Regions from separate parts of the Homo sapiens genome. Here regions 2, 3 and 4 are each linked to region 1. Evidence: fine-mapped expression QTL. A gene starts in region 1. Each other region holds a variant in brackets. All regions are shown on one strand. Distances are between the middles of the regions. Region 1 holds the start of ADCY9 (adenylate cyclase 9). Region 2 overlaps ADCY9 (adenylate cyclase 9). Region 3 overlaps LOC105371062 (a long non-coding RNA gene). Region 4 overlaps ADCY9 (adenylate cyclase 9).

What was found. PIP is the estimated chance that this variant, and not a neighbour inherited with it, causes the effect.
Region 2: its variant is fine-mapped to the expression of ADCY9 in whole blood (INTERVAL, PIP above 0.99).
Region 3: its variant is fine-mapped to the expression of ADCY9 in whole blood (INTERVAL, PIP above 0.99).
Region 4: its variant is fine-mapped to the expression of ADCY9 in whole blood (TOPMed, PIP above 0.99). The same link has a PIP of 0.9 or more in blood mononuclear cells.

The regions. Positions count from the first base shown.
Region 1 is chr16:4,115,227-4,117,910 of GRCh38, reverse strand. It overlaps ADCY9 (adenylate cyclase 9), which reads left to right and starts at 1,469. Exons shown (of 11, transcript NM_001116.4): 1 at 1,469-2,221; 2 at 2,426-2,684. The coding sequence starts at 2,469. RefSeq lists a silencer at 1,262-1,331.
Region 2 is chr16:3,962,595-3,965,278 of GRCh38, reverse strand. It overlaps ADCY9 (adenylate cyclase 9), which reads left to right. Exons shown (of 11, transcript NM_001116.4): 11 at 1-2,626. Among named protein-coding and RNA genes, the nearest start is that of TRIDDENT, 13 kb to the right of the region's middle. The variant G/C (reference allele first, on the strand shown) is at 998.
Region 3 is chr16:4,180,082-4,182,765 of GRCh38, reverse strand. LOC105371062 (a long non-coding RNA gene) reads left to right here. Exons shown (of 2, transcript NR_188654.1): 2 at 2,455-2,649. Among named protein-coding and RNA genes, the nearest start is that of SRL, 61 kb to the left of the region's middle. The variant C/T (reference allele first, on the strand shown) is at 1,507.
Region 4 is chr16:4,006,581-4,009,264 of GRCh38, reverse strand. It overlaps ADCY9 (adenylate cyclase 9), which reads left to right. Exons shown (of 11, transcript NM_001116.4): 3 at 1,707-1,897. Among named protein-coding and RNA genes, the nearest start is that of TRIDDENT, 57 kb to the right of the region's middle. The variant G/A (reference allele first, on the strand shown) is at 1,559.

The DNA.
Region 1 (2,684 bases):
CAGGCTGGAGTGTAATGGTGCGAACTCAGCTCACCACAACCTCCGCCTCCCGGGTTCAAGCAATTCTCCTGCCTCGGCCTCTCGAGTAGCTGGGATTACAGGCATGTGCCACCACGTCCGGCTAATTTTTGTATTTTTAGTAGAGATGGGGTTTCTCCGTGTTGGTCAGGCTGGTCTCGAACTCCCGACCTCAGGTGATCCGCCCACCTCGGCCTCCCAAAGTGCTGGGATTACAGGCGTGAGCCACCGCTCCCGGCCTAAACCACTTTAAAGTGTATGATTCAAGGGCAGTATGTAGATTCATCCTGTTGGATCATTTCTAGACTTTTTCATCATCCTAAAACGAAACCCCAAGCTGCTTATCTTCCTCCCCTAGCACCTGGCAACCTCCAATCTGTGTCGCCTCTACGGATTTGCCAATTCGAGACATTTCATCTGGATGGAATCATACGCTATGTGGCCTTTTTTGTTTGGCTTCTTTCACTAGCATAACGTTTCCCGGGTTCCTCCACACTGCAGCATGCATCGGTGCTCCATTCCTTTTTGTAGCCGAATAATATTCCATTGCATGGACAGATCACATTTTACTTTTATTTTCTAATTCAACAGTGAGACCTGGTGTGGGCCCCGGCGCTGGGCCTGGGAGGCGAGGGAGGGGATGGAAGAGAGCCCCGTGACTGGCAGGAGGCACTGTGGAGTGTGGGGAGAAGGGGTCGGGATCTGCATGCTAGAGAGAATAGGATTTTATTTACACGTGGCAATGTTTATGGAGGCCAATGCACAACTGCCATTATGGGACGCGGACTCCTTTGAAAGTCTCATTTGTGTAAAAGGAAAAGCAGTAGTTCATGAGGAGGGGGAGAAGGGCTCAAGGACAGCAAGGTAAACTACCCCTGGGGCGGGGGAACGTGGTCGTCGGTGGGCCCAGCTTTGGAGGCTAGGCCCGTGAAGGTCGCCCCGTGAGCAGGTCCAGGGCAGGCCGAGTGCCCCGGGGCCCGCATTCATTGCTTACAGAGCAAGGGGAGCCTCCCGGGAGGGAAATCCAACGGTTGGAAACTTCGATTTATCCCAAAGGCGTGCCGAGTGGGAAGGCAACATTTTGATTTCCCAAACGTTGCGGCCAGCGGCTTCTTCCACGGCAGGCGCCTTCAGGTCTCTCCGCAGGGTCGGGACCCCGGGCGGCGCGCGGCCTCTGGGACGCCGAGGGAGGGCGGGCCCACAGCGCCCGGAGCGCGGACAGCGGCCACAGCCCGCCGCCTAGAAGCGGCGCCGCCCGGGGCGGGGGGCGGAGCCGAGCGCGCGCCCCGCCCCGCCCCGCCCCGCCCCGCAGCCCCAGCCCAGCGCGCGCACCAAGGCGGGGCGGCGCGCGGCCCGTGCGCGTGTCCGGGGCCAGGAGGCGGTGGCGGCGAGCGCGGGCCGCGCGTGCGCGCTGCGGCTGGGCGAGGGGCGGCGCGGGCGCGCGTCTGTCAGTGACAGCGGGCGGGGCAGGGGCCGGAGATGGTGGCGGCGGCAGCTCTTCCGACATGAGGCAGCGGCCGCGGGGGACACGGCGGCGGGCGCGGCGGCGGCCGCATCTCTAGCTCGGGGAGGCGGCCCCCGGCGTGGGCGCGGGCGGGCGGGCGTCCCGGCCGGCGTCGCGGGAGCCCGGCTCTGCGGCAGCGTCTGCACCGCCGCCCGGCGAGGGGCCCGCGTCCGTGGTTCCACGCGCTCGGTCCCGGGACAGCTGCGGCCGCGGCGGGAGCGGCGGCGCACTCGGGGGGAAGCAGGCCCCACTAGACGGGCCGCGCCGACGGGCTCCGCGCACTCGCAGCCCGGGGCGCCCCCACCCCCAGCGCCCGCCGCCGCGGGCAGGGCCGGCCCGGAGCGCGGGGGGCGGCCGGGGAGCGCGAGCCGGGGGCGCCCGCCGAAGCTCGCTGCTCCGGGTCGGGGTCCGGGCCCGGGGCCGGCCGCGCGCCGCCTTTGACGCATCGGAGCGCGGCTCCTGCAGGATGGAGGGCTCCGCGCCGCCAGCGGAGTTGTTTGTGCGCAGGCGGCTCGCGGGGCTGGGAGCGCTCAAGGTCTGAACTTCCCTCCGGAGCCGCAGCTGGAGGAGGCGAGCGCGCGAGGAGGAGAAGCCGCGCGGCGCGGAGGCCACCCTCGGGGCGAGAGGCGCGGAAGGCGAGCGAGCAAAGCGGTCCCGGAGCCACGGCGGCCACGCGGCGGGGACCCCCGGGCGTTCTAGGTCCGTCCCGAGCGGTTCTCGTGCGCCTCGAAGGTGGGGGCGGTGGGGGCGGTGGGAGCACCGCTGAGCCGGGAACCACAGGAACAGATGGTGCCTGTCCAGGTCGCGTGCTGGAGCCGCCCCTTAGGACAGGAGCAGGTCCCGGGCCTCTAGGCGTGCATGCCTAGGTGGGAGCGCCGCTAACTCTCCCCGTTTTGCTGGCAGGTACTGGTGACCCCGGCCGGGGCAGGCCCCGGGACTCGACAACATGGCTTCCCCACCCCACCAGCAGCTGCTGCATCACCACAGCACCGAGGTGAGCTGCGACTCCAGCGGGGACAGCAACAGCGTGCGCGTCAAGATCAACCCCAAGCAGCTGTCCTCCAACAGCCACCCCAAGCACTGCAAATACAGCATCTCCTCTAGCTGCAGCAGCTCTGGGGACTCCGGGGGCGTCCCCCGGCGAGTGGGCGGCGGAGGCCGG
Region 2 (2,684 bases), 150 kb after region 1:
CGCACACACACTTGCATTCATGAATCTGATATAAAGTGCCAGTAATCCGCCAAGAGGGGGTGCGAAGGGGGCATGTCACGACAGCTCCGCCACCCCCCATTGCCCACCCGCACTTTCCCGAGCACCGCGCCCCGTGGGCTGTGGGTGAGCCGCGCTCCCTGCACTGAGCGGGTTTAGGGGCTCGCCCACATGCATGCAGGCCAAGACAGCAAATGCCAGCCGGGCACGACGCCCGTGTGCCCAGGCCTCGGGGGTCTCAGAGCCGCCTCTCACCCCCGACCCTCCACCCAGGGGTCTCCCCATCGGGAGTGGAGGTGTTGGTCCTGGAAGCTGACTCATCGGAGAGGGAAATACCAAATAAACATCCGAGGTTGCATTTATTTATTTATTTATTTACCCGGAAGCATGTGCGCTCCCGGGAGGGGTGCTGGGTCCTCAGGGTGGGGGGTCATAGCCACAGGGGAGGGCAGTTCCCAGGAAGGTAACCAGATGTCTCTTTTGTGTTTTGGCCACCTGGGGCCGCCCCCAACCTCCCCACCCCAAGAGGGGTCTGAGTGGGACCTCAAAGCATGGCCAGTGCAATTCTGAGGCTAGGGGAATAGGAGAAGCCCACCAGCTGCCCCTGCCACCCACGGGGGCTCCTCCCTGCCGGGGTCCAGCTCAGAACCACGGGGGTCTGTGCCGGCAGCACCGGTGCCATCTTGGCTTCCACAAATTCCAGAAGTTTCTTGGCTGCCTCCCGCTCTCAGATGGCACAGGGCCTATCAGTGGCAGGATTTAATCTGGGGAGCAAATTCCAGCTCTGAAATGGAGTTCTCACACCGTATCTAGGGACAGAGGCATCTGGATGCAAACGCGGGGTTTGTTAGGGGCGGAATCCCGAGGGTGGTGTGGGGGAGCTCCGTCCGGGCAGTTGGCTGCTGGTCCTGTCTGATTATGTTTTGCCATATTGAGTCTGAAGTTTGTGTGGAAGTGAGCTCGCCCGAGTTGTCCGGTC[G/C]GAGTTGTAGCCAGTCTTTCAGGGGACCCCGGGACGCTGATGAGGCCCAGGGTGCACTCCTTGTCAGTCTTGCCCGTTGTCCCTGTGCATTTTGCTTTCCGCTGTCAAATCTCACTGTCTCGTTTTCACACCGCATCAGTCCCCATCATCACTACTCCTCCCCAGAGACATACAGATTGCCCTCCCCGGCATGAAGAAGTCACAATTCTGACCCGCCACCTCTCCAGGGGCGGTGCCTGGGATGGCCACCCATCAGGACAGCCAGAGCCAGGGTCCCGGCGTCCTGAGAGTCCAGGGCACCTCCCCCCATTAGCTGTAAGGTTTCCTGTCAGGTGTGACTGTCAGTTTGCTGGTCTTCCAATACCGAAGAAAGGGTGGTTGTGACAATACCTCTTGCTTCTAAAGAATGTATTATAAAACACCGCAGATTTTTTTTTTTCCTTAAAAAACACTACCTGATGCTTTCCTTGTTCGTGGGGATTGTGGTCACATGAAGCTCTTTCTGCATCAGTATTAAGGTGTATATTTGAATGTCCTCCCCTCCCCTTTCCCCTCCAGGCTGTGTAGCTTTGAGGGGCTGGGCGTTTGCTCACGACCTTGCTGTCTCGCTCAGAACATGCTCCGCAAAGTTCTCCGCACACACTTCTTCCCCATCAAGCCCATTTCCTTCCCCAACCACAAAGGTGTTTGTGATTCCTCACCCCGGGAAACCAAGGAGCTGCAAAGTGGAGTCTGGTTCAGCCCCGTGCAGACTCACCCAGAGCTTAACGTTGTCTTTCAAACACCCTGAGCCTTCCTAAACAGCCAGTGCAGACGTTCTCTCTGGGCCACGAAGCCCCTCGGGTCCTCCCCGTCCCCTGCTCCGATGCATACCTCAGTGCAGAACCACAGAATCTCTGCAGCGGAAACGCCGTGCATCTCTTGTCTGTTGGCAGCGAGCACATCGTGCTGGAGACACGAGTTTCTAAGCAGCTGGCACGAGGGCTGCTGACGGCATGGGTCGTGCTTCAGGGTGGCAATACCTCTTAGGAACTTAGGGCAGGAAGCAATACTTCAGCATTGAATGTGTGTAAATAGTTGCTTTGAGTTGCAATTGCTATTTTCTTCTCAGTCCCAGCTCAGATCGAATTATATATCCATATATATATATATATATATATATATATATATATATATATATATATGGTAAACAAGCACACACAATTTTATCCAATGCAAACAAATGTAGAGCATCAGTTACAAAACCCTCGAATAGCTTGAGAGCCCCACAGGCTCTGCCACACCCGTGACTTCATCCACACTGACGTCACCCGCGGGGGCTCCCCCTGCACATTTGCACACGATCCGGAGAGCCGAAGGCCGCGTGCTTCCTGTCACATGGGCTGTAATCATTTGTAGTTTCCAAAGACACGTCTGCATTTGAATTTCTAGATTTTCGAGGTAAGGAGTTTTTTTTAATTGGTTGTTTGGAAAATCACATCATGCCTAGAATCTGAAATTGAATTAGCAAGAACCGACTGTTTGCATTTTCCATATATCCTTTTATCTGCTCTTTTTAAATTGTTAATTCTAATAATTTCAAAATGCATTCACTGAAGAAATGGACATTAAAATATTCTAAAATTTAAATATATGATGCCTGGTGTTTTCTTATTGAAAAGATGAGCACTGCTTCAGAGAGGAGGGC
Region 3 (2,684 bases), 65 kb before region 1:
GCCTTCCCAGTAGCTGGGACTACAGGTGTGCATCATTACACCTGGCTAATTTTTTATTTGAAAGAATTTTTGCTAACGCCGTGCGCGGTGGCTCAAGCCTGTAATCTCAGCGCTTTGAGACGCTGAGGCGGGCGGATCACAAAGTCAGGAGTTCCAGACCAGCCTGGGCAATATGGTGAAACCCTCTACTAAAAATACAAAAATTAGCCGGCGTGGTGGCGGGCGCCTGTAGTCCCAGCTACTCGGGAGGCTGAGGCAGGAGGATTGCTTGAAGCTGGGAGGCAGAGGTTGCAGTGAGCCGAGATCAAGCCACTGCACTCCAGCCTGCCTGACAAGGCCAGACTCTGTCTTAAACACAAAAACGAACAAAAAAAAGTTTACCGGGCGCTGTGGCTTACGCCTGTAATCCCAGTACTTAGGGAGGCGAAGGCAGGTGGATCACTTGAGATTGGGAGTTCGAGACCAGTCTGACCAACATGGTAAAACCCGTCTACTAAAAATACAAAATTAGCCGGGTGTGGAGGCACAGGCCTGTGATTCCAGCTACTCAGGAGGCTGAGGCAGGAGGATCGCTTGAACCCAGGAGGTGGAGGTTGCAGTGAGCCCAGATCGTGCTACTACACTCCAGCTTGGGCAACAAGAGTGAAACTCCGTCTCAAAAATAAAATAAAATAAATTGGGCTTCTCGCTCTGTCGCCAGGCTGGTCTCAAACGTCTTATCTCAAGCGATTCTCCCGCTGCAGCCTCTGTGCTGGGATTACAGGTAGGAGCAACCGCACCCTGCCTGGCCTCTCTTTGAAACCTGCCCAGTGACAGGGATCTCAATGCAGGGCATTGCATGTCTTCTGACAGGATGCTGGTTTAGGTCACTCCCTCTGCCCTGCAAGCCAGCTGTGTCCCCAGCATTTCCCAGGGCAGAGATAGATCACTCCCTGTGAGAGTGTTTTGGTGTCAGTGTGGAACGGCTTCCCTGTTTGGCCCCCTGGGTATACTGGAACCTGGGAAGGGACCTCTCCAGCTAACCCAGGGCTGGGCAGGGAGTTACTGAAAGGAAAAAGGAATTTATTTTTAATTTCCTGGGTTTTCTTGGCTGTTGCTTTGGAGTGGAGATCATTTAGACATCTGGTACCCTGATGGCCTGAGAAGAGAAGGAAAGTCCTTGGAAAGGAGTTAGGTGACTTCTGGGTAAGAATGAGCTGATACAATGGTGGAGAGTGGGGAGAGCTGCTTAGTGGCCAACCTGGCCATCATTGCCGTATTCACTAGGGAGCTTTTATTCTCATCTGTGTCCTCCTCCTGTAACTTAACACCTAGAAGTGGCAGGGAATTGGATCATGAAAGAGCCATATAGTCCAGCCTACTCATTTGTGTGTGTGTATGTGTGTCTATATATATGTCTATATATATATAGGTCTATATATATAGGTCTATATATATATAGGTCTATATTGGTCTATATATATAGGTCTATATTGGTCTATATATAGGTATATATATGTCTATATG[C/T]ATATAGGTCTATATATATGTCTATATATATAGGTCTATATATGTCTATATATATAGGTCTTATATATGTCTATATATAGGTCTTATATATGTCTATATATAGGTCTTATATATGTCTATATATAGTCTGTATGTCTATATATAGGTCTATATATATAGTCTGTGTCTATATGTATAGGTCTATATATATAGTCTATGTATAGGCCTATATATATGTCTATATATATAGTCTATATATATAGGTCTATATATATGTCTATATATAGTCTATATAGGTCTATATATATGTCTATATATGTCTATATATATCTATATATGTCTATATATCTTTATATACACTATATATGTGTCTATATATCTATATAGATACTATATATGTCTATTATATATCTATATATATAGATATATATATTTTTTTTTAGAGACAGGGTCTCACGATGTTGTCCAGACTTAAACTCCTGGCCTCAAGCAATACCCCTGTCTCCGCCTCCCAAAGGGCTGGGATTACAAGCATGAGGCCCTGTGTCCGGACCCAACCCACTCATTTTAAAATTGAGGAAGTTTGAGGCCTGGAAATGGAAAAATGTGGCCCAGGGTCACGGAGGGAGCTGGTGGCAAAGATGAGACTTAAATTCAGGTCTCCCGATTCCCAGGCCTGCCCTTGTTCTCTACACTCTTTGTATTAGTCAGGATCCAGCAGAAAACAGATTAAATTGGGGACATTTAAAGTGGGGGCTTTGAGGCAGGATATAGGGAAACTGCTATGGAATGTGGAATATTCTGGGGCTGGTGACAGTGGGATCTTACCACCTCTGCACCTGGAGGCAGGTTGTGTGGAGGGCGATCTCACTAGAGCTGGGACTTTAAGTCAAGGAGCTCAAAAAGGGACTTGGAGGAATAAAAACCATAAACCCTGTCCCCACCTTCTCCCTCTGGTTTTGATTCCAGGCTCCACATGGACCAAACCCAGCTGGCAGTCAGAGGGCAAGAGCATCTCGATGCAGCGCATACAGGCCAATTCCAGGGTGCAGTGCAGCATGGAAAAGGAGAAATGTACCTGAAGAGGCAAATGAAAGATATACAGCGTCACAGGCAATCTTGCTTCTACTACCATAAAAATAGTTTACGTTTCTTAGACACTTAGTCTGTGTCAGGCATGTCCATTATCTCATTGCATC
Region 4 (2,684 bases), 110 kb after region 1:
ACAAAACAAAACATGAAGAGTTTCTTGGGGCCAGTTGGCATCTAAAAATATCTAAGTCTTTTGATTCTCAGCTATGACCTGGCTACGTTCTAGGCTGTCTTTACGTGTTTCTAGGACTCTTGGCAAATTCTCAGAACAGTTGACTTAAAAAGATTAGCCACGTAGTATTTTTACAAGGAGAGAGGGAGGTGAAGTGATGAGATGGGGCCATACTTATAAAATGATTCGGGATTATTGATGAAGTAGTCCCTAGGTTTCTGATTAATTAATTTTAAAGCGCTGACCAAATATGTACCCAGCGTAAGAAGCCAGAGTCGATCAGTGTTGTAGACACGTCGCCTCTCGATGGCATCTTTCCATGCCACACCCTTCACGACCTGAAGCTGGAGCTTAAACCCTTCAAGAAGGGTCCCTGCGACCGGGTGCAGTGGCTCACACCTGTCATCTTTGGGAGGCCAAGGTGGGCAGATCACTAGGAGTTCTAGGCCAGTCTGGCCGACATGGAGAAACCCTGTCTCTACTAAAAATACAAAAATTAGCCAGGCGTGGTGGTGGACACCTGCCTGCTCACAGGCTGAGTCAGGAGAATTGCTTGAACCCAGGAGGTGGAGGCTGCAGTGAGCTGAGATCGCACCATTGCACTCCATCCTGGGTGAGAGAGTGAGACTCCATCTCAATTAAAAAAAAAAAAAAGAAGGGACCCTGCTTTGTTCATGATTTTATTCTCGGTGTGTGGCATACACTAGGCCTGAAATAAATGTTATTTAAATGTTAAATTACATTGTCCCTCCTTCCGATACATTTGCCATCTGGTTAAATTCCAGTGAAGTCAAAGGATGGATTTCTTTAAATAAAGTTTGCTTCTTTTTCAAAAATTCCTTGGGCTCTTTCTAGAAAAGCTGCTCCTTTGCCATCTTCCCAGCAGATTCCCGGGGCAGGATCCACCCACCTGTTCACAGCTCCTTCCAGCGCAGTGTGGGTCCGGCTGTTAGCTCAGCCTCAAAGGAGAATTGTAAAGATACAGGTCAAGTGTCCTTTTGACCACCTTTTTTTTTTTTTTCTATATGCGGGATTTTGTGAGACAATAAAATGCATGTGGACCTCAGCTTAACAAAAGCTGAATGTTCCTGGGGTGAGTGTTTGAATCCAACAGGAAATAGATGCTCAACAGCTCTGAGTCTGGGGAGGTTTTAATGGCCTCTTGGTCCCTGGTAGGGTCTTGTTTTTCGGGGTAGTTTTGCAGCCTCTGACACAGGTAAGATGGTCAGTACCGGAAGCTGCCATGACGTCTAGACTGACCGTTAGGAAGGTACTCACTGGACTGGTATTCACAGATGGAAATAAACCAAAGCAGTGTCTAGGGTCAACCAATCTGCTTTGCTGCCTTCACGGGGAGGTCCTGGGACCCTTTCATGGAGGAACTTTTTAATGCTTATTTTAACCCTGAAGGTAAAACATGAAACATGCAGCCATTACTCCAAGAAAACGTAACGTGGGTGAGTGGTGTGTCTCGGGGGCCCACGGTCTCCCTGAGGCCGCATCTCTCTGGAGAGATCGT[G/A]GACGTCCGTCGTAAACTATGACCTATTCACATTTTCACTTTACTCTCAACTTTCCAGGAGTGAGTCCTCTCCAGAGAGCAAGACGGAGCTGCGTTTCAACAGACGGTGCTTTCAATCTGTGCTGACTGTAACTTTTATCCATCATAGGTTTGAAGACATACCTGATATCGGGTCAGAGAGCCAAGGAGTCTCGCTGCAGCTGTGCAGAGGCCTTGCTTTCTGGCTTTGAGGTCATTGACGGCTCACAGGTGTCCTCAGGCCCTAGGGGACAGGGGACAGCGTCATCAGGGAATGTCAGTGACTTGGCGCAGACTGTCAAAACCTTTGATAACCTTAAGGTTAGTTTTTTTGTTTTTTTTTTCCTACTTCTAAAACTTTCTATTAATTCTGCAGTAGAGCACGTGAAATAATAAGCAGCCTCCAGGTCTGAGGCAAACAACTTGGAATGACCTTCGATTTGGTTTTCACGATTTTAATATTTAGTCTAAAGTTAGTAGCATTCTGCATTTTTAACATCCTTGCTTTTTGACATATGACGCACCTCCATTGCCTTTCCATTGCACAAGGATGCTTCTCATTTGAATTATTAGTTATTTTCTCTTCCTGGGACCTGTGGTGCCTTTTGGGATTTCTAGAAGCTGGTGATAAATGACAGTAAAGGTGGCTTTCCTTGGCACCTTGGGTGGAGAGCTAGTTGATAATCTGATTTCAGAGACCACTTTCTCAAATACTTCTACGTCTCTTGAAATCCACTATTTTATGATTACTTGAAATGATGTTGGTGTGGGTGAATCCTAGGACACAGCTCACTGAGAGGACAGGCTGCCGAGAACATTGTAGTATTTCATTATTGGAACCGGGATCTCCTGGTAGCTGCCTAGAAGTGCCCGTTTCTGGACTGACCTGTCATCATAAACTACCAGGGAATTGGCGCGGTCGACCTTGGGTGTGTGAAATCATTTCAGTTTATGAGCTGTTCCTTTGCTTTCACATTTGATTTAGTTTCCCCACTGGTACCTTCTGTTTATTTTTATAGTTTAAACATCTACTGTCTCCATTCTTAAAATGAGACAGAGAATCAAAACAGCTCTCCTATGCTGCTTTGTGTTCTCAGATAACACAGTG